Linked DNA regions of Homo sapiens: regions 1, 3 and 4 are each linked to region 2. The links come from fine-mapping of genetic effects on gene expression. A gene starts in region 2. Each other region holds a variant in brackets. All regions are shown on one strand. Distances are between the middles of the regions.

Region 1 (8,111 bases), 310 kb after region 2:
AAAAGCACAATAGGTGTGATTGTGTGTACCATTTTTTTGAATGAGGCAGGAAGATAGTTGACAGTTGGTTAATTCATGTATTCATTCTAGTTAGTTTTGTGTCTGCACTTCCTTCTGGAATTTAAACATTTTTGAAAATACGGTCTCTGTTCTATTTTTTATTTTTCATTCCTATAAAGTTTTATTGAATGCCTATATGTGTCCAACATACCAGATCCTAAGGTTTCACATAAGTCAGATTGGTCTCTGTCCTTAATGGTGTTATCATATAGCAGAGGACAAAATCATAAAATAATAATAATATATGAAAGATATGTAAGCATGTAAGGTCAAGAGGGTGGAAATTTCTTCTGTCTTATTCACTGCTTTATTGCTACTCCTAAGGGAGTGCCTAAAACAGATTAGATGTCCAATTAGTATTTATTCTATCAATTACTGTCCCAGGCATTTTACACATATTAGAAATATGAGAACTAATGTTTATTGAGCAATTCATATCTGTATACCAAACATTCTACTGGTATTTCAACACCGTGAACTAGAAACAATTACTAAGGTTATGAAATAGGAGTTAACACTGAAGTCTAGAGAGGTTATGCAATTTGCTTATGGTCACACAGCTAATAAGAGCTAGATAGAGGTCTCCTCTAGAGCTCATGAGCTTAACCAGTACCTCCATCCATGACACTGTCTTACCCTAATACTGGAGGAGTTGAGGAATAGGCTTCCCCACATCGTGGATAATAAAGCTAAAATTTTCTAAGGCAGGGCCTGGTTAATGGAGGGCACATGCAAGCTGACACTCTCAGGACTCCAAAGTGTACACACTTTTCACTATACCACACAGCCTCTCATGCACGTAGACAATCACACACATACAAACATTCTAACAAAAGTTTGTAGGAATTGTGCTGGGACCATGCTGTATAGCTGTAGTCCATGGTGTATAACATGCCTGCAGTAGAATATCTATTGAAATGAATAGAGCTACAAGGTTAATCCATTGGAGAAGGAATTTGGTGTGATACTTACAAGCTCCCCAGTGGCATGAATGTGTCACTCTTCACAACACTGCCTAGTTCTTGTGTAGATACACTATAAGCATTAAGACAATTTATCCTTACTGTACAAGACTATGGAGTGTAGATGTGGTAGACCTAATTCTGAGATGGCCTTCAGAATCCCATCCGTTGGTGTCCATGCCCTGCCCATTAAGTGTGGGCAAAACCTAAGGTTTGCTTCTACCCGGTAGAATATGACAAAGGTGAAGGGATTTTGCAGCTATAATTAAAGTGTCATGTCAGTTGATTTTGAGTAAATCAAAAGGGAGATTATCCTGGGTGAGCCTGACTTAATTAGGTGAAAGCCCTTAAAAAAGGAACTGGGCCCTTCTGGAGGCAATAGACTGTTCTTGAAGACTTGCTGAAGTTAGTGGCTCTTTTGGAGAAGCCTACATATCAAGGAAATATGACAGCCTCCGGAACTGCAAGCAGCCTCTGGTATCCAAGGCCCCAACAAAAAGCCAGAGCCCTCAGTCACAGAGCTCAAGAAATTGAATTCTACCGTCAACCTGAATGAGCTTGGAAGTGGATTATTCCCCAATCAAGCCTCCAGACTTTAACCCAATCTGGCTGATCCCTTAGTTACAGTCTTATGAGACATTGACAGGAGAGTGGGTTTAGACGTTAATATCCCATTTCCGTTACCAGATATACTGCAAAGACAGAGATCATTTTTTCAAGGAAGTTGTGACTAAGCACCATTTGAAATATCACTATTGTGGTTTTGACTGACCCCAGATGAAAAGATGAACTCTCCTAAGATTTCAGGCATCTTTAAGGATAGATTGTAATGATGCCAGGTGATTCCTAGATGAGATACACTAAAATTCCTCTCCACACAAGGAAAATAACAGTGTGTTCTCTACTTCTCTTGGAAGTTCCATCATTAAGGATATTGAATATGACCAGGCACAGTGGCTCACGCCTGTAATCCCAGCACTTTGGGAGGCTGAGGCAGGTGGATCAGTTGAGGCCAGGAGTTCGAGACCAGCCTGGCCATGACGAAACCTGTCTCTACTAAAAACACAAAAAAGTTAGCCAGGCATGGTTAATTAGCCCTGCTACTTGAGAGGCTGAGGCACAAGAATCAAGAATCACTTTAACCTGGAAGGCAGAGGTTGCACTGAGATCGCGCCACCGAACTCCAGTCTGGGTGACAGAGTGAGACCCTGTCAAAAAAAAAAAAAAAAAGAATATTGAACATATGTTTACATAAATTAATTATTTTGAGCAATGACTATTTCTGCTTCAGAAAATCTGGACTTCTTAAGTTGTGTTCAAGAAAAAAAAAACAAGACAACAAACACTTCAGGTTTATCCTTTTATGTTGTGACTATGTGGGAAGAGATTGTTAATTTAAAAAATCTGTTAACACCAAACTCTCTTTTTTCTCTTTTCCTCTTTTTTTTCTCTCTTCTCTGTCTCTCCTCATTTTATAGGTTTTGGTGTCTATTTATTTTTTCTCCATGTATTGCCACCCTTTGCTCTAGGCTTACATACTTTTAACTACAAATCCAGGAAGGATCCCTGATTCCACCTGTTCCAGTGAAAACCCTGATGTAGCTTTCATTAGACCAACATAGAATATGTGCCAACACTTGACCTAGCCACCGTAGCCATGGAATTTTATTTATTTATTTATTTATTATTTTCTGAAACAGAGTCTCACTCTGTTGCCCAGGCTGGAGTGCAGGGGTACGATCTTTGCTCACTGCAACCTCCACCTCCCGGTTTCAAGTGATTCTCCTGCTTCAGCCTCCCAAGTAGCTGAGATCACAGGCGTGTGCCACCACACCCAGCTAATTTTTGTATTTTTAGTAGAGATGAGCTTTCACCATATTGGCCAGGCTGGTCTCAAACTCCTAACCTCAAGTGATCCACCCACCTTGGCCTCCTAAAGTGCCGGGATTACAGGCATGAGCCACCGAGCCTGGTCCGTAACCATGGATTTTAATGATCTGTTCAGCCAGGCCTGGAATGCACGCCTTCCCCTGTAGCCAGGAGTAAAATAAGCCTATCAGAACCATGCAGGCTGGAGTTACATTTTCAAAGAGGAAAATGGATAAAAACGTTCCATTACTGAGACAACCTCAGATATTTTCCTCAGAGTGGAAATCAGGAAACCAACTTAGAGTCATCTCAAGATTAGAGGGAATTTGGGCTAGAAGGAGAATATTCTAAAGCTACTATTTACTAAAATATTACCTAATAGTACAGGAATAGACAACTGTATCAATGGAGTAGAAGAGATTAGAAAGTGTTCAAACAAGCATAACTCATTTAGAATGGATGCATGAAATGCTATTTCATTGTAGCACT[A/G]TTGTTTTAGAAATGGTTTTATTAAACTATACACAAATATATGAACACAAATCCATTACAGTACTGAGTAGTGGAATCACTATTTCTCAAATAACTAGTCATCCAGTACAGTAGACTGACATCTTACTGTTTTTACCATCTATTTGTTCTCTCTGGTATGGTGTTTATTTCTACCATTATTTGTACTTATATGAACATTTTTGGGCTGAGATGGCTATCAAAAATGTGCACCAGAGTGGCAAAGAAAAATTCCCTATTCAATATAAAAATACCACTTTTACTGGGGCTCTGGGAACCTTCAAGACAGTGAGCAAGGAAGTATTAGGTAAAATTACCAATTATGTAGCTAATTAGATATGAGGGGAAATCCTTGAAAACTTAGTAGGCCACATACATATCACTGCAGCCTCTAAAGATTGACAAGTAGAGGGAAATAAATTGCCAATAAATGATACTGAGAATATATGTCCAAACAGACTATGCCATTATAAGGTAATCACTCCCTGAAACATAAAAAAAGTCTATTTTATGAATTTTATATACTTATAGTTTATTTTATTATTTGTAGAACTTTTAAAATTTATATCTTCATATATGAATTTCATTTTTATTTTGTGTGTTCTATCTTATATATTTGTAGATAATTTCATAAATGTTTATTTTTGCTAGTTAAGCATCTGATATAAATGACATTTCCAATTAATAGTGAAATGGTGTTTCCAGGAAAGATATTGGAACAATGAATATCCGTATATAAAAGTAATTTTGGCAACCTACTTCACACCATATAAGCAAATAATTTCCATATTATATACATACCTAAATATTGAGGGAAAACCAAAATTGCTAGAATATACATAATATACTTTTTATAACTGTAGAGTGGGAGAAAACATTTTTAGACATAGCGCAAAACCCAGAAGCAAAGTAAAACACTGGTAGGTTATCTGCTTAACACTGTTAAACTTCTAATGGGCAAAAGACAAAGCAGACAAAGGTAAAGACAAGTTACAGGCTGGGAGAAAACAGTTACAAGATATATCAGAAAAAGGGAAACATATACCATCTCTAACATACTCTTACATGGCTCTTACAACCCAATAAGAAAGTGAAGTTCTCAGGTATCTGTGAATGCAAGCCACAGTTGTCTCTTAGCCACAATGTCTAGGGTGCGTCAGGATTCAGACGACTGCAGTTCCTGGCCAAGTACCCCCTAGCTTTGCTGAATGACATGCCTCTTTATGGCTTATGGACAGCAACCATTGGGTTCAGGTCTTTGCCCCATTTCCTGACCCAAGGGGCCACAAAATCCTTTGTCCTCACCCCAGGCCACAAGAAGAGCATCTCCTCAGAAAGTGGCCACTGGTTATTTCACCTGGCCCCAAGACGATGCAAGGCACCCACTCTGCTTTTTTTGTGATGAGATGGAGCATGACTGGCCTTGCACATGACCTTCAGTCACTGCCTCTTTGCTCTTTGGTTGTTGACTTTGTCGGCAGGGAATTCAGAGGGAAGGAGAGTCAGCGACGTGCTCTCGTAAGGTCATCTTAGAAGACCACTCTCTCCAATTATTTTAAGCAGCTCTTTAGAGCTTTCTACATTGTGAAGTTCTTTATCCTACCTGTGTATCCCTAGGGCTTTACAGAGTGGAGATTCAGTAAATATTTTGACAAGAGTGAGCAAATGATTTAACAGTCGATGGAGTGCAAATTGCCAACAACTTACTGTAGCGTTTCCATCCACAGCATTCAGGGTCAGTGGCTAAAATACTTGTCGTAAAGGTGCCAAGCCTCCAGGCATCTAGCAGGGCATTAGCACACCGAAGCATTTATTAGACTCAGGAATATACTCTTTATTGGCTCATTTCAAACAATACCTAAAAAAGAAACCTCTTTTTTTAAAGCCTTCAAAAGATGGCAGGATGTATTTTTTCCTAAGACCCATAAAACAGGTAACATAAACTGTTACTATTTCATAAGAAAAACTTAGGTACAGAAATACTCAAACACTTATCCAAGGGAGCTGGAATTTGTGTCAAATTTTCTTGAGGAATTACATGGCTCGTACTATTTAGACCATGTTCTAAACAAGCATTTATCGCTCTTTGAAGTTGTGTCGTATTTAGAAATTTAGATTCATAGTAATTAGATATTTAGATAGATTATACTGGAATATTTGGGTGGCATATGGACAGCAGGTCTGTAAATAAAATTTAAATCTTCATTACTATATTTTCTACATTCTGCCTTATGCTTGATTTAAGCTTTTTTCCCTTCTTTTCACTGGTTAGATTTTTTTTTCATTTATTTTTTCTTCTAGGTCGTTGACCTTTTTATAGGCATAGAAAATGCCTTGTACCGTGCACCAAAGTTCTTAAAATTTTAAAAGCTTTCTTTGACTAAGTCATCCCTTGCCCTCTTTTGAAGCTATTCTGACCTCTATTTTCTATTTTATTTTAATTAATCATATCTTAGGATTTGTAGGCTTATATGTGGATGCATGTATATTATCTTGTTAAGGGTACATAAGGCAGTTATACAAAAGATTATGTTGGCTTCAAAGAATGTTAAACAAAAGGAATGAGAAGATTCCTGAATAATATAGTTATGCATACTCAGAGCTTCTTTCATAAGGGCATTTGAAATGTATGCTGATCACCTCAAGGTCGCCATGAAATGGGAAGATTTAAACTAGTGGTGTTTGGACAGAAACAACTTTTACCTTGAAAGCCAGCAATCAATGACTGAAAAATGTATATCTAAGGCTGGAAAATCATTTCAGTATTATTAAGTATTCTGATGACAAAAAAGGTTCAAACATTTGTGACTCCCATAGCTAGTATTGATATGGGTGATGGGAAATAAGGATGTATTTATTTTATTTGGACTTTAGTCATGTTTTTATTGTCTGTAAAAATGACTTGACTGTTACAGCTAGAACATTGAAGAAAGAAGGGAAGCAGGTCAAATGGGTCCCCAGTGATTCCCTGTGGCACCTGGACTTTCTCCAGGAATTGATTGTTACATATTATTCCATCAAACACCTTTTAACCAGTCCAGTTCTTGTCTATGGATCCAGACAATTCAGTCTTCCCAGGGCTTACCCATGTTTCCATATATCCAGAAAGTTTGTATATTATGGCTAGAAAAGCAATTAAACCACTTTGGAAGGGTTGGGGGAAGGGAGGGTTAGGGAGAGACTTGTTAAAGGATACAAAATTATAGCTAGATAGGAGGAATAAATTCTAGTATTGTATAGCTTTGCAGGAAGACTAAAGTTAACAATCATATGGTATATAGTATCAGATAGCTAGAAGGAGGATATTTAATGTTCCCCACACAAAGAAATGATAAATGTTTTTGATTTTATATATATATATATATGATAATTACCGTGATCTGATCACTATATGTTATATGGATCGAAACATCACTATGTACTCCATGAATATATACAATTATTATGTGTCAATTTAAGAAATTAAATTAAAAAGAGAAATTAACCCAGCCTCACCATTTTACAGCAGAGGGACTTGAGGTGGAAAAAATTCAAGAAACTTTACTCTCGTCATTCAACGGAGTGATCTTTTGAAAAAGGTAGCATTACAAGAAATCCAGTATATACCCACAAATACGTGGCCACATTTCTTGACAATGTTCCAATTATTATTGATATCTACAATTAGAATTAAATCGTTGTTTCTAACCAGTAATATTCCAAGTAAAGTAGTAACATTGTTTATTCATTGGCATTAGGCATCTATGGTTAGCTCTACAGAATTATAGTTGAAATCTATGTGAAAATATCAATTTTTACACTTACCGACCATAATAGGATACTTACAGAAGAGCTTGATACCAGACTGTCAGCCAAAGATTTTCTGAATTTGGTATGAATTTTCTAAAGGTGGAGTGATTTGCTTCAAGAGAAAATTGCTTTGAGTGCATTTTGCAGTCAAGAACTTTGACACCTTGCAATTTACTAGTTGCAAAGATAATCTGATCACAAAGTAAGAAATCTGATCGTTGTAATTCCAATTTATATCAATAAGAAATAATAAATAATCTTTATTTTGGAGGTTTGCTAAGTGACTGAAAGTTTATCTAAATACAGACGGTTTTGCATGAACGCTAGGGACTGAATGAAACACTGTTTGCCTACCAATTAACCAGGCAGGTGTGAAACATAAGCAGTGACCGACCATAACAGACGATCTCTCAGATATTGATCACTCTTTTAACAGAAAAATTCCTATGGGCAGATAGAGGAGGGGGAGAGGGCAGCATTCTCTTGAGATTGTCTTAGGGAAGGATGATCATGAAACTCTTTATATCTGAAAAAAATTTTAAATCCTTTTAAATATCAATCCAGGAGGATTAGCTAAGCAGCAATAAAGCACCTTATAACTGTTACATAGTTAATTCAAAGAAGCATTGTATCAAGATAAATAAATATAGAAAACAAGGAATCCATTTTCAAGAAACATACTTTGTTCTAGTTCTGACTTCAGATTTAAAACACACACACATACGCAGAAGACACACTGAATATGATTGAATCTAGAATATAGAAATAAAATAATTGAATATATTCCATTTGTTAATGTGTGCATGTGTTTTCAAGACATGGCTCAATGATTCTGTAGTTTTTTCCTTATTTTTATTTTGAGAATTTTCTAGAAAAAATATGTCTTAAATACTTAATTTTTACTTCTTGGTTATCTTAGTCCAT
Region 2 (8,111 bases):
CTTTTCAGTTCTAGAAGGTTAGAGACAAAAATGAATATGATTAAAGTTTATAGAATCAATGCAGCCAAAAAGAAGTTTACTAAATCACAGACCACAGAATTAGAATGCTGTCTTTTAAGACTAAAAGAGTTATTTAGGGCATAGAAAGGGAATATAGTAGAATTTCAGAATAACCATATGTGTGTTAACTACTATTGATTACCGCTGTGACAGGGACTTAGATATATGATTTCATTTAATCTTTGCAATACCTCTTTAAGACAGCTTACTGTGGTGGTTAAATATGTAGGCTCTGGGGTCAAACTGCCTAGTTTAAATTCTGGTTCACTCACTTACTAGCTGGAAAATGTTGAACAACTACTTAACACTTCTCTGACTCAGATTACCCAGCTATAAAGTGGAGATAATAGTAACCCGGCTCCTAGGGGTTAATATGACAGTGAATGCATTAAAAATGTAAAACCCTGAGAAGAGTATGTGACATAAAAAGCTTTGACATTATTATTATTTCTCCATTTACATATTAGGACCTTGTATTTCAGAAGAGATAAGAGACTTTCCCACGGTTACGTACGTAGTAATTGGTAGAACTGGCTGTTAAAAGATATGTCTATTCAAATCAAAACACTGTCCTTCCCACTGTGGCAGGCCTCAAGTGAGTTATGAGCTGACAAGAGACTGGAGTACATACCACAATCTAGTTTCTAGGGAAATTAGGACTATTTATATTACACTGTGGTTAAAAGGAGAGAGAAACTACTCATATCTGCCTTATAAGTTGTAGAAGTATCTACCATGGTAGTTAAGAGTCTAGGTTCTAAAGTCAGACTTCCTAGGTCTCCATCTCAATTCCGAATTTTGTAACTGGAGGAGGTTAATCCATCCTCCAAACTTTAGTATATAAATCAGTAAAATAGCATACAATAATATTATCTACCAGATCAGCTGAGAGTAACAATAAAGCTTAAATAATAAAGAGATTTATTATCTCACTCATTAAAAAGTCTAAAGAAAATTTAAAGGGTTTAAAAAGCTCATGAAGGACCAGGTTTCTTTGCATCTTTCTTGTCAGTGTCCTCTTTACATAACAATATGAGACAGAGAAAGAGAATTTCCCTGAAGACATTAGTCAGAACTGAGCCCCTCATATAGCTCTTAAACCAGTTACAGACAAAGGGGAATGGAATTATTGACATTAGTTTAGGCCAATCATAGTTTGTTCCTTGGAAAGAGAGAGGGGCCATGTTTCCTAAGCATGACGACCACCCAAATTAAGTCAGGGTTTGCTTACAAGAAAAAGAGGGTGGAGAGTGGTGTTGAATAGGAAGGGTTATGTTTTTTAGTGTCTGGGAAGTGCTTAGCTTAGTGCTCTGACCCACAGTGAGTGCTCAATAAAGGTTAGCTTTGCCAGCTCCCTGAGGCTGACATTCCCAGAGGGCAATTCTGTGCTCTCACAAAAAACAGACCTTCCTATTGTTTCAAAAAACAGTACACAGCACCGAACTTGACGGATCACAGGCCTGGCTCACACAATTTTGGATTTCTTACAGATCCCTTTGCATAGCAAAAATCTCCACACTTGGACACAGGAAGGGGAACATCACACACCGGGAACTGTTGTGGGGTGGGGGGACGGGGGAGGGATAGCATTAGGAGATATACCTAATGCTAAATGATGAGTTAATGGGTGCAGCACAACAACATGGCACGTGTATACATATGTAACTAACCTGAACGTTGTGCACACGTACCCTAAAACTTAAAGTATAATAATAATAATTTAAAAAAAAGAATGGGAAAAAAACAAAAAAACTCCACACTTTAGAAACATTTCTATCTTGTATACTGAACAAAAGGTGTGGAAAATGAGGGAGTTAAACCATGCTGCTTCAAGCATCATGCTACATGTTGAAGGTATTTATCCTGTAGTTCTCCTTTAACAAACTGCGTCATTTTGCTGGCTGAAGAAACTCTTGCAGCCCATGTTTGTCTTGAAGACAAATCCTGTTCAGATTTCTACAGCGTTCTCTCCTTTTTACGTCCACGTTCACAGCAACAGCTGGGAGGAATCAGGGATGCTAGATGAAATACTCAACTATCCATTGCCAATAATGGTGGTTACCAAATGACTCCCAACTCAGTGCCATTCAACAATGAACGTTTATTGTCATGTTCATGAGTCTGCAGGTTGGCTGAGTCTGGGAGATCTAGGATGGTTTCTACTGGACTTGCTTCCAAGCTGTAAATGGGGCTTAGGTCTGTCCTGATTGTCTCCTTAGATCAGAGGCTCCCTGAGGCATGTTTATCTCATGGAAATGATAAGAAACCCAAGAGGGAAAGCCCAACCTCAAAGCATATTTTGAGCCTTTGCTAATATCACATCTTCAAACATGCCATTGGCCAAAGCAAGTCACATTGTCCAACATCAATGGGATGGATAAATAAACAGGGTGTCTAGTAAAAACTGTAAGGTCACAAAGAAAAATGTGTGGACGCAGAAAGGAGCAGGGAGCAGAGAGCTATGATGCAATAAACTACCACAGGAGGCTCAATCTACTTCTTATTTTGCTTAGAGCTCATTGTAACTCTCCAATCTCCTCTTCTAGTGAGCGCAGCCCTGTCTTGCCTTCCTAAGCCACTGTGACAGGTAAAAACTATTTGGCCAATAATCTTTCCAGTAAATAACAAAGAGATAGAAGGAGAAAAGGAAAAGAAAGGAAAGGAAAGGAGGAAAGGAAAGGAAAGGAAAGGAAAGGAAAACAATTTGGTATGATCAGTTGTAAGGACAATTGAGAAGTTCTGGAGCCCTGGAAGCAGAGTTTCATTGCAGTACTCTGAAGTAGAGAAAATCGACTTGAGACGGTGACTGATACCTTCTGTGAGGTAATTAGCAAGCCAAGGCTGCTGGCTAGAGGGACTGTGGACCATTCAGGTTTTAGTTTAGGGACATGTGATCAAAATGAAACCAGTCAGTTTTTCATGAAATTCTTTGTAGCAATTGGCTTCCAAGCACAAGGCAAGACCCTCAAATGACAGCAAGAGTCATGGGTCTTGTTCACCAGGTTATCCATGGTGATTACAATAGTGGCTAGTATACAGCTGGCTACCAATAAGTATATTTTAAATGCATTGAAATATTTAATAGCAAATTTCTGTATTGGATTTTGGTAATCTTTTGACTGAGTTCATAAGCATTGGGCCTTGGAGTCCTGAGGGCAGAGAACAGGGAGAATGAAGGATTAAGAGAATGTAGTGTTTCTCTCCATTTTTCTCTCTTCGTATTCTTTCTTCTTTTTAAAAATCAACCTTTTTGAGATATAATTTATTTAAAACAAACTGCACTCAATTTAGGCGTACTTACAGAACTTACAAGTTTTGATAAACACACACACGATATAGAACATTTCCGACATGCTCATCAGGTGCTCGTAGCCCTTCCCTGTCCATCTCTACCTATCCCTGGCCACAGGCAAGCTTTCTGTCAACATAGAATATCTTGCCTATTCTGCAATTCCTACACATGGAATCAGGCAGCATACAGTCTATCGTGTCCGGCTTCTTTTACAAAGCTTAAAGTCGCGATTCATCCCTGATCTTGCATGCCCACTCATTTTTATTGTGGAATAGTATTCCAATATTTGGGCATACCACAGTTTGTTTATCCATTCACCTGTTGATTGACATTTGCAGGCTACTAAGAAGAAAGTTCTTCACATCACTTTACAAGTCCCTGCAGACTTGAACGTTTTCATTTCTTTTGGACAAATACTTAGGAGTGGAATTTCTAGGTTGTATGATAAGTAAATATCTTACTTTATAAGAAACTATTCTCCAAAGTGGTTTTACTATTTTATATTCCCTCCAGCAATGAACAAGAGTTCCAAGCTATTTCTCTCTCCGCCCCCCCACCTCCCGCGTGTGTCTCTCTCTCTCTCTCTTTCTCTCTCTCACACTCACTCACTCTCTCTCTCCCTCTCCTCTCTCTCCTTAATAAAAAAAAAAAAAGAGTTCCAGTTGCTCCACATCCTTTCAAGCATTTGGTATTACCAGTCTTTAAAATTTTATCCATTCTGGTCCTCCTCTTTCCCTTCTTCCCTCCCTCCCTCCCTTTCTTTCTTGAATTGAGAAATGTTTGTGGAAGGAGTGAAGACAAACATTCCTGGACCTATGTTCCTAAATGAGCAAGTTTCTATTAATAAGACTCTCCCCCACCCGCCACACATCCTACACACTCAAGGAGAGGAGCGGGAGAGGGCACCCTCTTTCTTCCTCGGAAAATAAAACCTTTGCTTTCTTTAGGATGGGCTTTCTGTCTCGAAAGCACAACGTAACCGTTTGCCCGGGTTTCAAGATCAGCGCGCTGCAAACTCTCAGGCGCGGCCAGGTTTCCTCAAAGAGCCTCTCAACTGCGCTCTTCTCTGCTGATAAATGATAATTCTCTTCAAAAAGCTGGTTTGTGGCTGGCGCTGGAGAGCTCCAGCTAGAGCCAAAAGCCAGGGGTTGCCTCTTTGGTTCCTCCCGATGGGCCCCTTTTCCCAGCCAGTTGGGATCCAAAGACGCTCCGGAGCTCGAGCCCAAATTCCCAAGAAAACCCCAAAGAGCGTAAGGCTCCTGGGGACCCCTAGCACCTCTGCAACCAGGGCACGGGGCATGCTCAGAGCGAATGCGGGAGGCAGGCGTTGGCTGCAATGGGGCTCGGGAGCCAGGAGGTGCCGCTGCGTCCCCGCTTCCTGGCGCCTGACCCAGCGTGCAAAGTTGGGCTGGGAGCCGCGGGGGGAAGGAAGGACCCAGCGAGCGAGGGTGGCGGGGAAGGGGGGCGGGGGGGAGGAGGAGGGAGGAGGGAAAAGAGCGGTTAGGGGGGGCGCCGGGCGTGTGTCACTCGCTCTCTCCCTCTGTGTATAGAGGATGTGCTGAATGGTGCGCTTTGAGGCGGCGGCGGCGGAGGAGCAGAATCCGCCGCGACTGGCAGCCTCGGCTGACCGGCTCGGCTTCTCTTCGCCTTCCGAGGCTCCTCATCCACCGCGGGCTCCAGACCTCGCGTCCCGCCCGGGGCATGGCCGGGCGCTGCGCCCCCGCGCGCTCTGCCTGCTGAGCGGCGCCGGAGGGAGGTGCGGAGGCCGGGAGGCCGGGGAGGCCGGCGGGGAGCAGAGTCGAGCGCCTCCGGAGCAGAGAAAGGAGCCCGCGCCCCGCGCCCCGCGCCCCGCGCACGGTCCCCAGTCCCTGCCGCGCTCGCCCGGGCCGCCCGGAGCCCAGATGAGCCCAGATGGCCGGGGCTCAACCCGGAGTGCACGCCTTGCAACTCAAGCCCGTGTGCGTGTCCGACAGCCTCAAGAAGGGCACCAAATTCGTCAAGTGGGATGATGTAAGTATTGGGGCGGCCCGAGTCGGGGCGCTGGCTCGGGCACCGGGCAGGGCGGGCGTCGTGGGGGTGGGGCAAGGGGCGCGTTATGCAATGGGCGCACTGGGAGCGGGCAGGGGCAGCCTCGGGCGCACAGGTTGGCATCTGCCAAAGCGGATGTCCAAGGGCAGAAGCTTTGCGCGCGCTCCTGTTTCATCGGGCTTCAGTAGTTGCCATCCTTTCTGGGTCTGGCAGGCGCCCCCTGAGGGTCTTACATCTTTTGGGCCAGTGGAGAGGGAGGGGCAAGCTTTGCCTGGTGACAGGTCCTGAGAGTTCGGAAAGTAGGGAGTGTGAAGTTGGGACCAACTGGAAAGCGCCTGGTGTGAACAAATCGCGTCCCTCTCCGCCTGCGGACGCACCCCCTATTACCTCTTTTGCCCGATTTCAAGAAGGAAGGACCTGAAGTTCAAAACACTTTAGTGATTGCGAACCCTCTTGGCGCTTTTGTGGGAGCCAAGGCGGCGGAGGACACAACGGTCCAGCCAACAGGTGGTCGTTGATGCCAAACTTCAGCGCCTGGCTCCGGAGTGAGGGTCCCTGAAAAGGGCTGCGGGGACACATCTGGGGAGGGCGTGAACAGAATGGGGGCCCTTGAGGGGTCCTGGAGGGCTCATGGGCCTGCAGGCAAGTGGGGAGGGCTGACTTTTGAGAACTGAGCTGATTGGAGTCTTCTGCCTGAAATAGACAGGTTGAGAGTTTGCCCCACGATTTACCTGCACCGTTTGCCAGGTAGGGCAGAGCCTAGCCCAGCGCCGGGGTCTCTAATGCTTTACGAGCGGCCCAGACCCCAGGACTTCAAATGACTTCCCCTTCCCCTCTACCCCAGTTGTCTTCAAAACACGTAAATTAGTTATCCAGCTGAAAACATGCGAATCTTCGGATGGAGAACATTATGGTATCAGTTTTATGTCCTGGGTGTCATTCTAAAGGTTCGATAAGAAAAACCTACTGAAATAAACCCGAGTTGCCAGGCTCTAAGCAAATTTAAGTCCAAATGACTAATACATCTCTTAATCAGAAGGAATTATAGGAGAATGAGGCGTTCTTCTTGCCGAAAAGATTTTCCACCTAGTAAATTATAGCCTGTTATCCTCTAGGGTATTTTTCTTTAATCTTCTTAAGCCATTTTCCAGTGTCTGAAAACAATTTAAATATTCCAGGTAGTGAATCCAATTACTTAGCTGAGTGCGTCTGTGTCTATATTTTGTCCAGCTGGAAGCGCAAACGGAACTTGGAGTATGAACCACAGCTTCCTTGAAAGCTCGTGCCAATTATTAAATGCTGTAGGCAAGGATGTAAACATACATCTTTTTACCATGGGCTTCACACTTTTCTTCTTTCTGTTCCAGTCTAATTGTACTGAATGTTTCTGTAAATGGAATAGAATCTAAACAATAAATTCAGACGCAGATTAAATGCTTTGTGTCAGGGAAAAAAAAGACAAAGAAAATGCAGTTCAGCAATAAACAAGACGGTCTTGCCCATTTTGAGATCCTTGAATAGAGAGGTGATGTGATGATGGATTTACTGAGAAAGAGAGTGAAGGGCAGAGGAAAGAGAAAGAGACTTTGCAGAATTTAGAAAAGGGAGTTTCAGCGTAAGCTCTGGATTTGTATACAGTGATGATTCTAAACTGTATTTTAAATAATTCTCTATAATTTCTTGTTTGGGAGAGAATAGCCAACATCACATTGAGAATGAAAGTATTCTATGAAAACACATTTTGGTATATCCAGGTAGATGACTTTCATTATGTGCATTTCTGTAACACATATTTCTTGCTCACCTATTACTGCCAATCCTAGACTGGATTCTGGGGTGGTGAAAAAAGTAGACAAAATCCCTGCTGTTACGGACCTTACATGCTAGGTGGAGGAGACAAAAATCATCAAAAACACCAATGAGAGAGAGATTGGGTGATGCATTGAGGGTAATAGAGAGGACGTTAGTGAAATACCAACCAAAGAAGAAGTTGAAAAGAGCTCCTTCTGAGCATTGCAGCAGTGAGTTTCCAAGGAAGCCCTCCTGAAAGAAAGGACATAGTCACTAAGGAGAAGACCAGAAGAATTTCAGGTCTTTTTTAAAAAAAAAAAAAAAACCTAGACTGCACTCAGGAGTCAAGTTATCTGGAATATAATGAGCTATCTTGCAGGCTCTTTGGTTCTCTGGGTCTTCATGCTGATCAGTGGACTACAAGGGACCCAGCCTTTCTTAAGGTTGCCTTTCTCTTCCCCAGGCATCCCTTTTCTACTCTTCTCAGCTCGTATTTGCCCTTCCAGAATCAAGCCAGTTCAAGTTATCTGGCTATTTATATTGTACCTTAGTGAGACAGTGTGTTGAAGACAAAAAAGAACCAGATCTTGAATCAAAGGCCTGAGTTTACCTCCTAGTTCTTTCACCAGTAAGCTGCATGACTTTAGGCAAATCACTTAGCTTCTCTGTATTTTTGCTGCTTCTTGTGTAAAAGCGTGGTAATGTTACAGGACATTCAAAAATGATGAATTTGGGGCTGTTTAGGATGTGAAGAAATTATCTCTTGTTCCTGAAGTGATTAAAGCAGTATAATCACTGGTCTTGTTGTCTTGACCACCATATGGAATGGAAGATGTCACCCAGAGGTTGCAGTGCCATGCATAATTTGCTGGCCACCTACCAAGTCACAGTGAGGCTGTGGATGCTCTAAGGGTGGTAGTCGAAAGCTTTAACATAGGCA
Region 3 (8,111 bases), 340 kb after region 2:
CACATTGCTTCAGGTTGAAAGTATGCAAAATTTTTAAACTATTCCATATTCGTAATAAGTGAAAAAATAATTATTTTTGATTTCTCCCCTAAGGTACTAGCAATGTGTCCATTAGGAAATTTAGCTCTTATTTTTGGTGAAGTAGCAGAATTTTTGTTTCAAGGCAAATTCAGCATAGATACTTGATTGTAAAGATATTATTGTTTGCAAATCTTTGTGGAGTTTTTTGGGGGCCAAATTGAAGCATTAACTCAAAAGAATGGCCCTTTTCTTTTATTGTTATGTTCTTTTCATTTTATTTATTTGCTTTCATACATTTTCTAATTAATTTTATGTTTTTACCAATACCAGCCCCATCACTGGGGTTCTGGTGACCACTTAATTTTACTGTGAAGTAGAAGCCAGATGATGGATAAGTCAAGCCCCAATATAATAAAGCCACCTTAACTAGTTAAACTGATATTATAGAGCTTAGCTCTGACTCCAGATATACATATATACCATTACTTTATAGAACAACTCTCTCTGGAATAGCCGTGTTCTCTTTAAGCCAGGTATGATGGTGCATGCCTGTAGTCCAGCTACTGGGGAGGCTGAGGTGGGAGGATTACTTGAGCCTAGGAGTTCAAGGCCAACCTGGGCAACACTGCAAAACTTTGTCTCAAAAAAAAAAAAGTTATCTTCGTCATTGAGATGTTGCATTGATCACCCAAGTATGGTGAAGAATTGAAGAGTAGCCAATTAGAGTGCTCGATTATGAAAATATGATGCAAGATAGGGACCAGGAAGGTCACCACAGTTCTTCCTGGGGCTAGTTGCTATGAAAGATAAACCCCCACATCTCAGTAGCTTAACACTATTGAAGTTTACATTGTTGTTTACAAAATGCTCTTTCTGGTGGACTGTTTCCCTTCAAGCCATGATTCACATGGCCGGCATTCTTCCATCTTGTAAACCCATCATCTACAAACAGAGACATCCAACTTACCCTGCTAGGCTGCATCAAGCCAGAAGGAGAAAGAGTATGGACGGTCACCAGTGGAAGGTTTCTGTGAATGTGACTCTAGCTCTAACTCTGTGAGCTAGAAGTCAGTCATATCACCAAACCTCATCCCAAGGGACACTGGGGCATGTAATCCAACCACATATGCTCAAGAAGATGAAATGGATTTTGGTGAACATGCAGTGATCTTGACATACACTGCTGAATATTTGCTTTTTTATATTTACAGTGTTGAAATTAATCTGACTAATGAATTGGAGTTAGTTATCTCCAAAGGAAAAAAAAATTACACATGCACGCACACATTAATTATACATTAGTCTTAGGCTAATAATTAATATATCCACATGTTAAGTAATTTCTTTAATAAGTTCTCTTCAAATTAGTTCAAAGATGTCTTTGGCATTCCTAGAAGGCACATTTTATTGATCTGTTCTCAATTTACAAAACAAATAACTGACTCTTTATATCTCCTGAATCTCCTTTGAACATTAAACTGAGTAGCAAAGCATCACACATAGCAAGAAAATTGATTTTGACAATCCAGCCTTGTTAGTTATCATTTCAACAGGTGCCATTAGTATCAAGACCGAGGTGCCTGCCACAGCTCTAGTGCAATAATGTGAAGTAAATATCCATCCAAGCACCCTGGCCTCTTCTCCAAAATAGAAAATGACATCATGTAATTGGTTTTGTCTGAACTGCTCAGTGAGTGAAAATGTGTTTCAGAAGAGTTAAGGCATGATGTCATTATTCCTGAAGTGGATTCTTGCAAAGGCTGGGCACTCAGCAGCCTGAGTCTTAAAACCAGCAGCAGTACAAAAACCTGATGCAGAACCTTAACCCCATTTATATAATATGGTGAATTTTTTCTCAAATGGGAATATGGTGCATTATCTTTAAAAACAAGAAGTGATCACATGCTCCAGAACACCACTGATGCCTCTAAGAAATCTTATTGAATTAAGACAGTTAATTAATTGTCTGCAATAGTCTTGACTCTTGCCTGTCTCTCACTTGAGCATGTGTTGTAAATTAGGCAGGAATATCATTAGGGCATCCAGTTCGTTCCCATGCCCCAGTGGCAAAGAGGGGCAGGACATGAAGATGATTTTATTTATTTAACAAATACTGATCACCTGCTATGTGCCTTGTAATGATCTTAGTGCTGGGTATATAGCCATGAATAAAATGAGATTCCTCTTTTTATACATAATAAGCAAATAAAAATACAACCCAATGGCAGGTAGAGTTTCATGCTAGGAAGAAAGATAAAGCAAAATGACATGCTAGAGGGTGATGCGGGAGTGGCATGGACTGGAAGATGGGCTGTCAGAGTATGACATTTGAGCAGAGGCTGAAATGCTCTGAGGGAGAAAATCATAAATCATGTGGATATTTGTTGGGGAAATGATTATAGGTGTAGGGAACAGCAGGGGCAAAGTCCTTGGATCGGAGTGTGCTTGGCAAGTTTAAAGATGAGCAAACATGAATGAGGGGTAGAGTGGCAGGGATTATGGTGGAGGAGAGGCAGAAGGAGCAGAACATGCAACATGCTGGATGCTGCTGTAGGCCCTCATAAGGGACTGACTATTGAGCCATAAAGCCACTCGATTTCAGGCTTGGCATTCATGCTCTAGCACCAGAAGTGTAATGCTGGGTGGTCTATGGGCTCTGCATTTAGGCTGGGGACTAAGATGTGACATTTCTGGACCTTGGATGATTGTCAAAGGATGGGAGGTTGGTTCTGGGTTCAGAGAATGGGGAAGTACATTGCCCATTAAGAATTTTAAGAGATCTAAGTGTGACCACAATTGATGATTTTATTATCTTCACTTCAGTGATAAAATTCTTCACCCTCCTCATTCCATAATATTCTGCTGCTTTCACCTGAAGTTCGCCAGGTATGATTAAACATTGAGTAATTCAGACCAAAGCTTCCAGATATCTAGTAACAATATACACTAGTCAAAAAACAAGATCACACACACAGACACACACACACACACACACACAGACACACACACACACTCTTTAGTATATTTGGCAAGGAGAAATCATTGAGTGCATGAATTTATAATGGGATTGTATATTTTCAATCAAAGATCTTACATGAAAAATGTTCAATCATTAAGATAAGGGAGACATTTATGTTATGTGGTACCCAAGATATGCCAGTAAGGTTTTTTAAAATACACTTTATTCATTTGTTCAAAAGCCATTTTGGGTGGTGGAGGCTTACTCTGTGCTACTGAAGACATAATGAAGATCAGGAGATACCCTGGCAGCCGAGAGCAGTGGTGCATGCCTGTAATCCCAGCTACTCAGGAGGTTGAGGTGGCAGGATTGCTTGAGCCTGTGGGTTGGAGACCAACCTGGGCAACACAGCAAGACCCTGTCTCAAAAAAATAAGTGGGAAAAAAAGACAGAGATGTCCTTGCAACAAACCAGAAAGTGAGGTATAACTATTCTAATTTTACAAACAAGGTAACTGAGGCACAGAGGAGTTCAGCCTGTGTTCGGAGTCACACAGCTGGTAACATGAAGTTGAAACACAAATGTAACTTTTTTCTACACCTTGTCTTTTTAAAACCAACAACATCTTTCAGACACTTGCACACTTTTTTTCAGATAATTGGTGTATGTAAAGGATTTCACTTCACATGGACTATTTGGTAGATATATAACATCTTAGATATAGCCAATATCTTGTATAGGAACAATGTTTGTATGAAGTAAAGAAAAACAATAGGATAATCAATGCAAGGTAGAAAGTGATAGCACACTTCTGTGATTAATACTAGGATAACTGGTAAAGAGTATATGCTATTTTGTATTACTATTTCCATAACTTCCAATCATGCACATGGCTGCTTCTCTACAACTCTACAAAGACAGTATCTAACACACTGTCATACACCACTGCTTCCTATCTTGTTAAAATGCCAATTCTGACGCAGGTCTGGTGTGGGACCTGAGATTCTGCATTTCTAACAGACTCCAGGGATGCAGATGTCATTGCTCTGTGCTCTTAAATGTGGAGTTTAAGGCTATTACAGTCATTTCCGGCACCAACCAAAACACTGTGTCTTGGCCCCCACGGCTACTGGTGGTCACTTTTGCAAGAATGTTTCCTGGGAGACCTAGTAGAGCAGCTTACAGGAGTTCACAAAGACACAAAATGATGGTAGGAAGGAATAAAGAGGAGAAGTAAAAGTGTTGCA[A/G]TGGATTCTGTACCTCAATCCTGAAGAAACCACAGATCAGTCACTTCCTTCTTGTTCAAGTGTGTCAAGTGTGTCAAGTGTGTCAGCCTGATTTGGCACAGCTGACTTGATGAAGCATGATCTCACACAGCAAAGCTGTTGATCACCTTGAAGAATATGTACTTTGCTCCTTGGTGTAACCTAAATTTTACCTCGCTAAAACAAAACAAAAAGAATCTAATATTCTACTCATATTATTCATTCTGGCTGGATGCTAAAGTTAATTTCCTTAAGTGCTTCAGATACTATATTAAAACTATCCTTTTATCAAATATTTTAATATAAAGCTTTTGAAAACATGCAAGAGAATTTCTTCATTAGAGCCTTCTCCAATTTTAATGAGCACACAAATCACCTTAAAATCTTATTAAAAATATAAATTTTGACTCAGTGAGTCTGGGATAGGGATTGAAATTTTCCTTTTCTTAAAAGATCTTAGAGAAGGTGGATACAGCATCCTTGGAGCACTCTGAATAGACGGGCCTTGGAATATCTTATCTTCACTTGTATTAGGATGGCTTTTTTGTGTGTGTGATGTTCAAAATGATGAGGAAGCTATATGTTTACATATCACCAGAAGCTTAAAATGATGGAAAGGAGGCTCCCACCCCATCATATAGGCCATTGATCAAAGATTCTGCAGTCACACTATTTCCTTACCATGATGGATTATTCAAACACCAGCTGTAGGAAAAGGATTTTTTTCAGGAAACTGATGGTCCATTGTAGTTTTTCTGAAATCAGGCTGTACTTGAGGATTACTCAGCGGGTTCCAAAGAGTACAGACATTTAAGATCCACCCCAGACCAACTAAATCAGAATCTCTGGGCATGAATCTAATGAGTAGTCTCTAGACCAGCAGCACCTGCAAGCTTATGAGCCATACAGAATCGCAGGCCCCTCCAGATCTACTGAAGTACAGCTTGAAAAGATCCCCAAGCAATTCCAACGCATGTTCAATTTTGAGAGATGTTGCTAACTGGGAGGCAAAGCTGTAGAGTTGCCGCAGCAACTTAATTGTAAGGTATTAAAAGTCTCCTTTCCTATCTAATCGTTTGGATGTCTGCCAGGTATTAGGACCAAAGGAAGACGGGCAGACATAAGAACCCATCCAATGGTGGTTACATTGATTATATCCTTCCTGAGGCATCTGAAATAGTATAAAATAATAAGGAGAGAACACCAAAAATGTATCAACTTCCATGTAACTAGTGTGTATTAGCCCATTTTTGCTTTGTTGTAAAAGAATATCTGAAATTTAGAAATTTAGTAATTTAGAAAGAAAAGAGGTTTATTTAGTTCGTGGTTCTGCAGGCTGTACAAGCTTGGCACCAGCATCTGGTGAAGCCTCAGGAAGCTTTCACTCATGGCAGAAGGCGAATAGGGAGCAGGTGTGTCACATAGCAAGAGAGGAAGCAAAGGAGTGGGGAGGATGTGCCAGGCTCATTTAAAGAACCAGCTCTCGCATGAACTAATTGTGCAAGAACTCACTCATCACCAGGGCGATGGCGCCAAGACAGTCATGAAAGATTTGCACCCATAATCCAAGCAGCTCCCACTAGGCCCCATCTCCAATACTGGGAATAACATTTCGGCTTAACGTTTGGATGGGACACACATCCAAACCACATCTTAGTGCTTTACATAGACTGTTCCATCTATCTCTCCTCTTTGTCATGGGTTTTGGTTGACTTTCTCCCAGAAAGTCCTCCCTGCTTGTTTCTGGCTTTAAATCTATTGAGTAAAATTTATCTGAAGGAAATTTAATCAATAATTCAAAACAGGAATAGATTATTCATAGGGAGAGCTGTGCTCACAGTTTTGTTAATTTGCAGTGGTAGCATTCTTTATCACTGGCTGAAACTCAAGTAAAGGAGTGAAAGATCAAGTATTTGTTGAGAAACTATTTTGTGCCTAGCATCATGCTAAGGATTATGGTGACAACCGCAAAAGGTTAGTTTCATGGCACTTGTTGGAGATGCATGTATTTAACTTGCAAATAGTATACACAACTCGTGTGTTATTAAGTTATGAAATATTGAAAAAGCATAACATGGGAGTTTAATAATGGAACACAGACAGACTGAGCAGAAAAAAAAAATTAGTGAAGGGAGGTGTCATTTTGAATTTAGGCTTCACAGAGCCAACAGAACTTGAGTAGATTTAAGATGTGGACATTCCATTGAGAGAAAACAGCTTCAACAAAAGCAAAATATATAAATATACATATATAAATAACACACAGATGACAGGAAACAAATAATAATGAGAGCTTACCCTTAAACATGCAGCACTATTTTATGTTTTGCATTTTTAATTTTGGGCATAGAATTTCATGTATGTTGGGGAAACTGTAGAAATTCTTCTTATTCTAATTAAGGAAGGTAGCTTTGAAAACAAGCATATTTTAAATAGTTAAAATTTTCATTATTTTTTCCTCAAAATTATAGATTGTGGTGCTTTTTTGTAATTTTTGCTAACTTCAAAATGTAAAGTTAAAGGTTTTATGAAATATCAATTCTGAAAAAAATTTTCTGCTACTAATGATCTAAAAACTGCTATGTTAAGCAGGCTCTTTTCATAGATTAAAAATGCTCAAAATTACTTTGATGTAAACTTCATTCATTATACATGTAAAAAGCTTGGTTTACATGGCTTATAAGTCAGTTTTACAGTCTGGCTGTTAAGCCTAATTCTTTAGATAATTACTATGTGAAATTTTCGTTGTCATTAATTCTTCATTGTGGCAAACTGGCATGAGTATTCTCTATTATGGAGTAATAATATTAATAAGAAGTGCACATATTCAAAATAATGTAGAATTATATGCACTATAATTTACATATTTGTTTAATGTCTTATTTTTTATTATCAACTTTGCTTGTTTATTTGTTTTATGTCACCTGCTGTAGAATGCTAATTGGTAACAAATTATAGCATTATAGAATAGGTGCAAGCCATCAAAGTGTACATTTTTATGTAAATATTTTATTTTTATTATAGAATGAGTAACCTAAAGATAAATGCAGTGCATTCTCAGCAATAAGATAATGCTGAAATACATTTCAGAAGATACAATATTTTTAAACCTGACAGGAAATTATAAAACATTAGCTTACATGAAATAAGTTTCATTCTATATGAGCTTTAATACTGCAAGATCTATGTCTATTAACTGACAATGGAAAGTTTTGTGAGGAAAATGGTTGTATGCTATATCTTTGCTTCCACTAACAGGAAACATTACAGAGTCACAATTCTTAATAGACCGCAGGCTCCTTTACAACTTAGCCATCTATATTACTCACTTTTATGTCCCTAGCATTGGTGATAGATGGTGTTATTTATTCACAATTCTTTTGCTTTCCATCTTTGCCATGAGTGTAAGTGGAGTTGACAATCTACTGCATTGACTTGGCCCTGTGACTTGCTTTAGCTAGTCAAATGTTAGTGGATGTAATGACTTTACATGTGCTTGTGTGGTATGACTCCTTCTCTTGCATTTCTGCCCTTTACTATGAGAAAAATATCTTTTAGGTAGTTGACGATTTCGAAATGAAAAGGATATGAAGATCAGAACCCAACCTGTAGCATAACACAAATCTATATGCACAAAGCACGTTCCATGCAGTCATGTCTTAGTTCTGGGATTTCTAGGTATGGGATTTCCTTGAGCTGAGCACTACATGTAATAGTGATGGTGAACTATCTAGGTATCGGTTTCTAAAGGTTTTCTCAGTAGTGGGACAGTAGCTGAGAAATAAAGGAGAAATTGGCTAGGCCAGGAGACTTCTCCATCTCTAGGGTCGCCAGGTAATAGTTCAGATTACTTCAGAGATTTAAAG
Region 4 (8,111 bases), 110 kb after region 2:
ACCATGTTGCCTAAATTCATGTAACTTCCTTCTGGGTTAAACTGTTTATTGGACATTTCTGAATATATGCACCATATGTGGCTATCTTTCAAAGTATGTGTCTGAGATATTATTCAGAGCCTTTTCCAGCCATTTAGAGATATATGTGGAGCTTAGAGAGAATAAAAATATAATGTGCATTATTTACTAGTAATTCACATAAAATATTCCATTTCTAAAGCATGTTGCAGAATTATTCTACTGGTAAATTAAGATTGAAGTTGTCCTTAGATAATAGCTAGCAGTATAATAAAAATACCACATAATAGAAATTGATTCTGAAATGTAAGAATGTTTTATTATTGGAAAATATATCCATATAATTATTACTTCTACAGATAAAAAGAGGAAAGCCACATGATCATACTGATAAGGCAACAAAAAGATGTGACAAAATTCTAATAATTTTAAAAATCTCTTACAAATTAGAAATAGTAAGATGCTATCACAAACCAACAACATCATACATGATAGTAACATTCTTGAGCATGTCTCTAAATTGGGAGAGAGCCAAAGTTATTCGTGCACGTCCCTATTATTGAACACTGCTTAATAAAATGAATTAAGCACTATAAATATTAGAATTGTCATTTTATAACTTGCGTATGAGATGACTGTCTACCCTGAAAAAACAAGATCAACTAAAATGTTAATCCCAAGGAAGAGTTCAACACGGAAATTATTTCTAAAATACTTTTATAAAATGAGAAAGTTTTTTATGTCCAGTAATCAAAAGTTAGTGAAGCTGACATTCAAAACCTCAAGCTCAAATATAAAGGACCTATATTTAAAAAAAATCTTAAGGCGTGTATAGGATTCTTGTATTAAATTGAAACTCTCAAGGCAATCCAAAGTAGTTTTAAATAAGTAGAAGCACTATATTTCTGGAAGGAATAATATTTTAAAGATACATGTTCTTTCCAAATTAAATTACTACAAATTCAGTTAAAGTTAGGAAGGTGTTTTTCAAACTTGGAAAATGACTCAAGTTAATTTGAAATTTTTTGAAGAAACTACTAAAAAATGCTGAGGGAATTATGCCAACCAAAATTTCAAATATAGTGTAAGACAACTAATATAGCACTCTATTGATATGGAAATCAATTCATCAGTAAAACAGAATAGAAAGTTCATAAATACACTAATTACTATAAAAAATAACACAGGCACAGTGACTCACACTTGTAATCCCAGTAATTTAGGAGGCTGAGGCAAGAGGATGGCTTGAGGCCGGGAGTTTGAAATCAGCCCAGATAACATAGTGAGACCCCTGTCTTTACAAAAAATTCAAAAAATTAGCTATGGGTAGTGGTGCCTGCCTGCAGTTCTAGCTGCTCGAGAGGCTAAGGCGGGAGGATCGCTTGAGCCCAGGAGTTTGAGGTTGCAGTAAACTATAATCTCACAACTGCACTCCAGCTTGGGTAACAGAACAAGACCCCATCTCAAAATATTAATTAATTAATTAATATAAAATAAAGGTACTAAATCAATTGGGTAACACAGGATTATTCAATGAGAGGCAGAAACTACAAAAGGAGAGTAAAGACAAACTTGATAGCACCATTATTTAAAAATACTTCTACACAAAACAATTCACAAATGCCAAGTCCGAACCAAACAAACTGGAATATTTTTGCAAAATAGATGACATTTTAGAAACTTTAAATCCTTATTCTGTACTAGCCTTTATAAATTAAAGAATAATAGAAATATGGGTAAACGATATGAATGGGAAAGTAAAGTCCCCCAAAGAAAGAAAGAAATGCAAACACAAATAGATATGAGAAAGTTATTAATTTCAGCAATAATCAAAGAAATACATACTATAACAATAATTATTTTCACCCATAAAATTTCCCTTATTTTCAAAACTAAAAGTTCCAGTGGTTGACAGTGGGGAGGTTAAATACCACTCCAAGGTATTTTGCAGATAATTTACATTGGTTCAGCTTTTCTGGTAGCCTTTGGCATATTTATCACAAGCATGAAAGTCCTCAAGCCCTTTAATTCAAAAATTTTATTTTTAATGTATTATTCTAAGGAAATTATAATGAAAGTAGGCAGACATTGCAAGGAAATTGCTTGTAGTACTGATCAATAGTATAACAAATTGAAACATAAACTGTAAGTATTCAGCCAAAGGAATAAATTAAATAATCATAATATATGTCAATAGTGGAATCGTAGGCAGACATTAAGAAAGCTGTTACCAAATTAAATAATATATAAATATGTTCATGCTCTAGTGTCAAGGGAAATATGCAGATTACAAAGGAAAATGAACAATAAGATCTTATTTTTTAAAAAGAAAAAATGCCCAGAAGTCATATGGACATGCACGAAAGTAACAGTGGTTTTCTCTGTCTTGTGTGATTATAAATGATTTTAATTTACTTACTTGTACTTGCCTCACATTTGCAAGTGTTTTTCTACAGCAAGCATATATTACTTTTATAACATCATGATAAAAATCATATTTCATTGTATTTTACAATGGACATTTTGTTTTCTAAAATCAGAAAGCAGAAATGAAATAATTATAACTATATCTTAATTCAGAGTTTAAAGGAGAAATCTCCATTTACTGGTTTCCCCATTACTACTTAATTGGCTAATCTAGTTTTTCATTTACCCTGATGTAGACACAAATAGAATCTGCAATATAATCAGGCACCAACCATGGGATTAATTAGCTAACTAATTACGTAAATGGGATCCCAGTTTTAACAGTCATACCTCTGCAAAAATTGTCTTTTTCTTTGCAAAAACAATGAAGTGTCAACTTTTAAAAAATTAATCCTGCCAACTTCTTATAAAAAGATTGTGTAATGTCTTGGGGAAAGATTTAAGATATACAAGTTAAAGATGGCCTTTGAAAGACAGACAGATTTGAATTTAATATTTGACTCTTTTCTAAGAATTTAAAATTATTCTCAAAGACGAAAATGAATGGTCTGAAACTCAACGAAATCTTTTCCATGTGAGTTATGCACTCATGGTGTCCCTGTAGGAGTTAGAGAGGTGAATAAATTGAACGAGTAATGATTTGTACTCTTAAACTTCCTGGAAGGAGAAGTGGCTTGGAGGGTGTTGGTGGGAATAGCCAAGGTATGACTGTGATTTCAGGTAAGATAATTTGAGGAGCTGACAATTTACCTGCGTGGAAGTATCCAGCAGGCATTTGGGAATATGTAATTGGCTCCTGAATCAGACATGTCAGTGAGGTGATACTCATATAGGAGTCAGTTACCTAAAAGTGACAGCTAAACCTTATGAAGGCAATGAATTCCAGGTTAGTGCAGAGCCTCTGCACAGTTCCAAACCCAGGGGATGCTCTTCTCATTCTCTTATCTGAAGTTAAGCTCCAGGGCTTATCATTCACATAAACTACATTATGAACAATGCTGTTTCCATCTCTCTATCATGCCAGATGTCATATACTAGATGAGGTCTCTCAGAAGAGCTAGACAGAAGTATAAGGACTCACCTTTATATATACAAAGTGAGGAACAAGACAATATGTACAAGGACTCATATTAACATATGCAGGATGAAAGGGGAAAAAGAGGTCAGTTAATTGGTTTTAAAAAAAAGATGAAATAAGACAGGCTCAAGGAAAACGGAAAGGGGGCAAAATTGCGGGAAGTGTTTGGCCTGTGGTTTCAAATGTTATAGACAGACCTGAGGCAATGATAACTGAGACAAGCCACTGGGCCTAAAAGTATATAGAAATGGGTAATCTTAGGGATGGTGGAGTCCATTGAGTAAATGGGTGG[C/CG]TGGGGGGAAGACATCAGACCCCGAGAAGCAGAAGCTAAGGCCTGGGGAGGAATGGAAGACTATGGACTTAAGAGTGTAGCATCATTGGTCGAAAGACTTTTATTTATATTTAGGGAGACTAGAGCATGTCTTTAGGTAGAGCAAAAGGAAGCAGGAGAGAGGGGAACACTGAAATACAGGAAAAAGAGGGGATAGTTGAGTAAACAGAAAGAACCCTAAGTGAAAGCAGGAGGAGATTGGAGCAGTATACCAGGACCGGGATGAGCCCTGGAAAAGAGAAGGAGCACCTATTTCTCAGAGCTAGGATGAGACTGAGGTGGACAGGGAACTAACGCCTTCCAGAACAGAAATATGTGGTCCGATGAGTATTGAATGCAACTTAAAATCTAGTTGGAATGTGATGGATAAGAAGAGACCCAAAGTCATCAACAAGCCTTCTCATGAACTTTCAGTCATTAACCTTCCTATATAGTAAGGACAGAAATGATGATTTAAGCCATCTTAGGCAAGGCAGTGCTAACAATATGCTTTTGTAAAGTCACCATCCGGTGTAAGGAATAGGCACCAGCTTAGTGATGTTTGCAAATAAGCCAGTGGTGGGTGTGGATAAATTAGAGAGAGTACCAAATGCAGTTTGAAAAGTGTTAAGTTTTGTCTCTAGTAAATTGCATGTAGTTTTACCAAATAGTGCTTCAGTGTTCTCTTTGTGTTTCCTCTTTCTGGTACTTAAAAAAAAAAAAAAGTAAAGTCAGTTCATGTAGCTGTGAGATAAATCTTGAGAAAAAGAGTATTGAATAGGGTACTGAGTTTATTGGTTAACACTTAGGAAAGATACGATGCTTGATAGGAGATCCTTTTTATTAAACACAAAGAATAGCATTTTATTCTATGCCTTAGAATTTTGTGATAGAATTGGCAACAATTCAGTTCACAAAGAGCCTTAGCACTGTGGCCACTAATGCACTGTAAAATGGGTTTTTGTTGATGTTGATTTGGAGGCTGTGTTAAATATCTTGCCCACAGCTCTAAGGTTTTGGGTACAAATCTATAAAACTATTTCACATTTATGCTACTTCCTTTTAAGACGATAGGTAATTCCCAATGATTTGCTTATAAATCAGTTATGGTTTACAAAGCAGACCAAGAGACATTCAGATTTCTGAAAACAAATTATCCATAGTTTTCTATTAAACATAGAACTGGGAAAAGACTTAGTGATTACTTAGACTATGCCTCTGATTTTTAAAACGAATTGTAATTACAACCATAATCTATGATTTTTTTTCATGAAAAAAAACAAAAGCTGTGTGAATGAGGTCAGTAACTTCCTCAACACCTCTCAGTCTCCCAAACAACAACACAGGTTAACCGTTATCAGTTTGCTGTGAAACCTTCCAAAATTTTCATGATATTGACACACACACACACACACACACACACGCACACACACACACATTTGCTTAATATGCAGTATTTAATGTATGTTCAATACATAGCATTTTTTTGCATTTTGCTTTTTATACTTAGTGATGTATCTTAGAGATTTTTGCATATCAGTATGCCTAGAGCTACTTCACTATTTTTATTTGATGCACAATATTTCATCACATGGATGCGCCATCATTTTTTTCACTTTCTCCTTAAATGGATATTTGGCTTGTTTTAATTTTTTTTCTGTTACCAATGATGCTGGAATGCACACACCTCCTTGTGCATAAGTATTGGCCTTCTTTGGGATACATAGGGAAGCGTAAATGCATTTTACATTTTAAGTGGCATTGCCAACTTATCCTTCAAGATGATAGTATAGCAGCCTTTTAATTTTAGAAATTAAGAAGGTTAAGAAGGTAAGGCACAGAGATTTTATAGCTTGCCAGATAGCATAACAATTTAGGAACTAGAAATCAAATATCCTATTTCCTTTATAGATTTCTAGTGTCTACATCAAATTTTTTCCAAATTTATAAAAGAAGAAAATAATGTATATTAAACTAGCCCCATGAAATTTTGCTTCATACTTTTCCTATTCTTTACCAGCAAAGCAAAACCAGTTCTGATTGGTCATTTAAATCAATGAGTTGAATACAAACAGAAGTATAATTGCCAAATTATGGGTTTTGGGAAACTATGGTGAACACGAGATTCTTTACTTGTCTGTTTTAGGTTATTTTTCCAGGTTATGTGATCCTGTGATCACATATCTGCCAACATTTTCATGTTTTGGGTATTTCCTAATGTAATTGAATTTCTCCTGGTTTAGAAATTTATCAACAGAATCATCTTTATTTCTTCCCTTGATGTATTCCCAAATGTAAGAAAAATATGCATAGTGAGTTGATAAAAAGAATGCAAGTAATCTACTTGAAAAATTAAGCCTCTACTTTCCAGGAAAGATAATTTTAATGGGGTTTGGGTTCATTCTCTATGAGTCCTTCTCTATCCTAATGTCATGTTGGGTCACAATTGTCTGATGATCCTGGCTAAGCATTTGGTTAACCTCATTTTGGGTCCTCTTTCTCTCTTCACATGGAGGAGCACAGCACTTGAACGCTCTCGTGTTTGAGGACAACTGGGCTGACATCGAGTGAATTTTTGGAAAACTATTATGTCTTTGTAGTCACTTAATGTCAGCTTGATGTTGAAGCAAAGTTCTGTAGGAGTAAAAAAAATACAAGAAGTGCAATGAAATATTAATTAGGCACCGAGTAGAGGCAAGGAGCTGGGCTAGGCATTTTTATGTATGTTATCTAATCTATGCTCACAAGACTTACAACCCATGTTGTAAGTCTTGTTTTGTTTGATTTCCGTATCAGGAAATGGAGGCTGAGAAAGAGAATAACACATCAACTAGTATACACAGAGGTTCTCTAGCTTTCCCTACTTCTTTCTACCACCCTTCCTCCCACCTCAGTAGAAATCAGTGAACACTGGAGCAAAGAAGTCCTCTTGGAAGAAGCAGAGTTGGAGCTAAGTCCCAAAAGGTGGCTGAGATTTAGATGATTGAAGGAGGAGGGTTCCACATTTAAAGAGGGAGAGTAGTCTGTGTAAAGGCACAGATGAAGACAGGCATGGTACACACATGCTTTCACTGGGTTAATGTACAAGAACAGAGCTCTGTTCAACTGGCTTTGGGAAGTATAATTTTGGAGGATAAAGGGCATTGGCAAGAAACTCATTGGGGTCTCATGATAAACAGCCAGATATTAGGAGTCAGGAGCTAGAAGGACTCCCTGTGTCTCTCCAGAGAACTTAGTGTCTCTTCTTTCTCCCTTGACCTTCCTGCTACATGTTTCTGTTGTTGTTGTTTTTATTTTTTTTCTCTCTGCAGAATGGCTTATTTGCTCTACCCAGCGTGTGGTCACATCAGCTGCAGCAAAGATTCCAGCTACTAGCATCACTAGGCCTCAGTGCCAGATTCCACGGGCCAGATGTCTATCCCTGGTCCACTCAGCTATGATGAGGATAATGCTTTCAGATTCTTGTTTACCTCAGCCTGGGAGCAGGTTCTTTTATATCATGGCACAAGCAGCTCCTCTAAGAAGGCAATGATTAGTATTTGAACCACAAGGAACAGGAGAAGTGAGGGGTCAATGTGGTCAGACTTACTAAGGAGTACTTAAAGGCCACTGCAAAACCAGGCACCTGATCCTCTAATTGAGAGGGGAAGTTTGCAAGGGAAAGGTGTTTGATATATGGCAAGTTGAAAGGGTGGAGAGGCTGAGCGCCAGAGGTGAGCTGAAAGGTAATGGTAACAATAGAGGCCTAGGGATACATTAGTCGACTTAGAGAGAAAAGAGAGGAATGGCAATTGCTGAGGATGCAAGAAGTTACCTTGAAAGAAGGAAAAGCAGGATTTATTGACTGGTTATAAAGGCAGCTTTTAGCTCCAGGGATAGGGACAAGGTTGTGTGGCTTTGGGACATAAAGAAAGGAGAAGGAGGAGGAACCTGAATGTCAGGAGAGACATAATGCTTCTGGTTTGGAAATGTCATCTCTGGTTCAATTGTGCTATGGGAATAATGGCCATAAGGCTACAAATGGGGTGTGCAGAGTGAATTGGATAAGATATGAAGCTATGTTAATTGGAAGTTAATGAGATGAGAAGTGGGGAATTTTGGAGAAAAACAGGAAGTCAGTGGCCAGTAGCCTCAAATCTAAATTTGCATCGTTACGGGCATGCTATCTGTGGGTTTGTGATAGGATTTCACTCAGCTTCCAGGTGGCTAGGTCATATTATCAGGTGGTGAAACAGTTAAAAAATATCACGACCTAAGATAAAGTTTTGGTGTTTGCTG

The links.
Region 1: its variant is fine-mapped to the expression of PLCB1 in whole blood (TOPMed, PIP above 0.99).
Region 3: its variant is fine-mapped to the expression of PLCB1 in blood mononuclear cells (TOPMed, PIP 0.99). The same link has a PIP of 0.9 or more in whole blood.
Region 4: its variant is fine-mapped to the expression of PLCB1 in whole blood (INTERVAL, PIP above 0.99).

What each region holds. Positions count from the first base shown.
Region 1 is chr20:8,434,093-8,442,203 of GRCh38, forward strand. All of the region lies in intron 3 of PLCB1 (phospholipase C beta 1), which reads left to right. LOC124900459 (a long non-coding RNA gene) reads left to right here. Exons shown (of 2, transcript XR_007067518.1): 2 at 1-8,111. Among named protein-coding and RNA genes, the nearest start is that of PLCB1-IT1, 190 kb to the left of the region's middle. The variant A/G (reference allele first, on the strand shown) is at 3,381.
Region 2 is chr20:8,127,389-8,135,499 of GRCh38, forward strand. It overlaps PLCB1 (phospholipase C beta 1), which reads left to right and starts at 4,878. Exons shown (of 32, transcript NM_015192.4): 1 at 4,878-5,362. The coding sequence starts at 5,264. RefSeq lists a silencer at 4,964-5,103.
Region 3 is chr20:8,472,015-8,480,125 of GRCh38, forward strand. All of the region lies in intron 3 of PLCB1 (phospholipase C beta 1), which reads left to right. It overlaps LOC124900459 (a long non-coding RNA gene), which reads left to right. Exons shown (of 2, transcript XR_007067518.1): 2 at 1-8,111. Among named protein-coding and RNA genes, the nearest start is that of PLCB1-IT1, 230 kb to the left of the region's middle. The variant A/G (reference allele first, on the strand shown) is at 4,228.
Region 4 is chr20:8,235,050-8,243,160 of GRCh38, forward strand. The region is part of intron 2 of PLCB1 (phospholipase C beta 1); the gene reads left to right. Among named protein-coding and RNA genes, the nearest start is that of PLCB1-IT1, 9.6 kb to the right of the region's middle. The variant C/CG (reference allele first, on the strand shown) is at 3,816.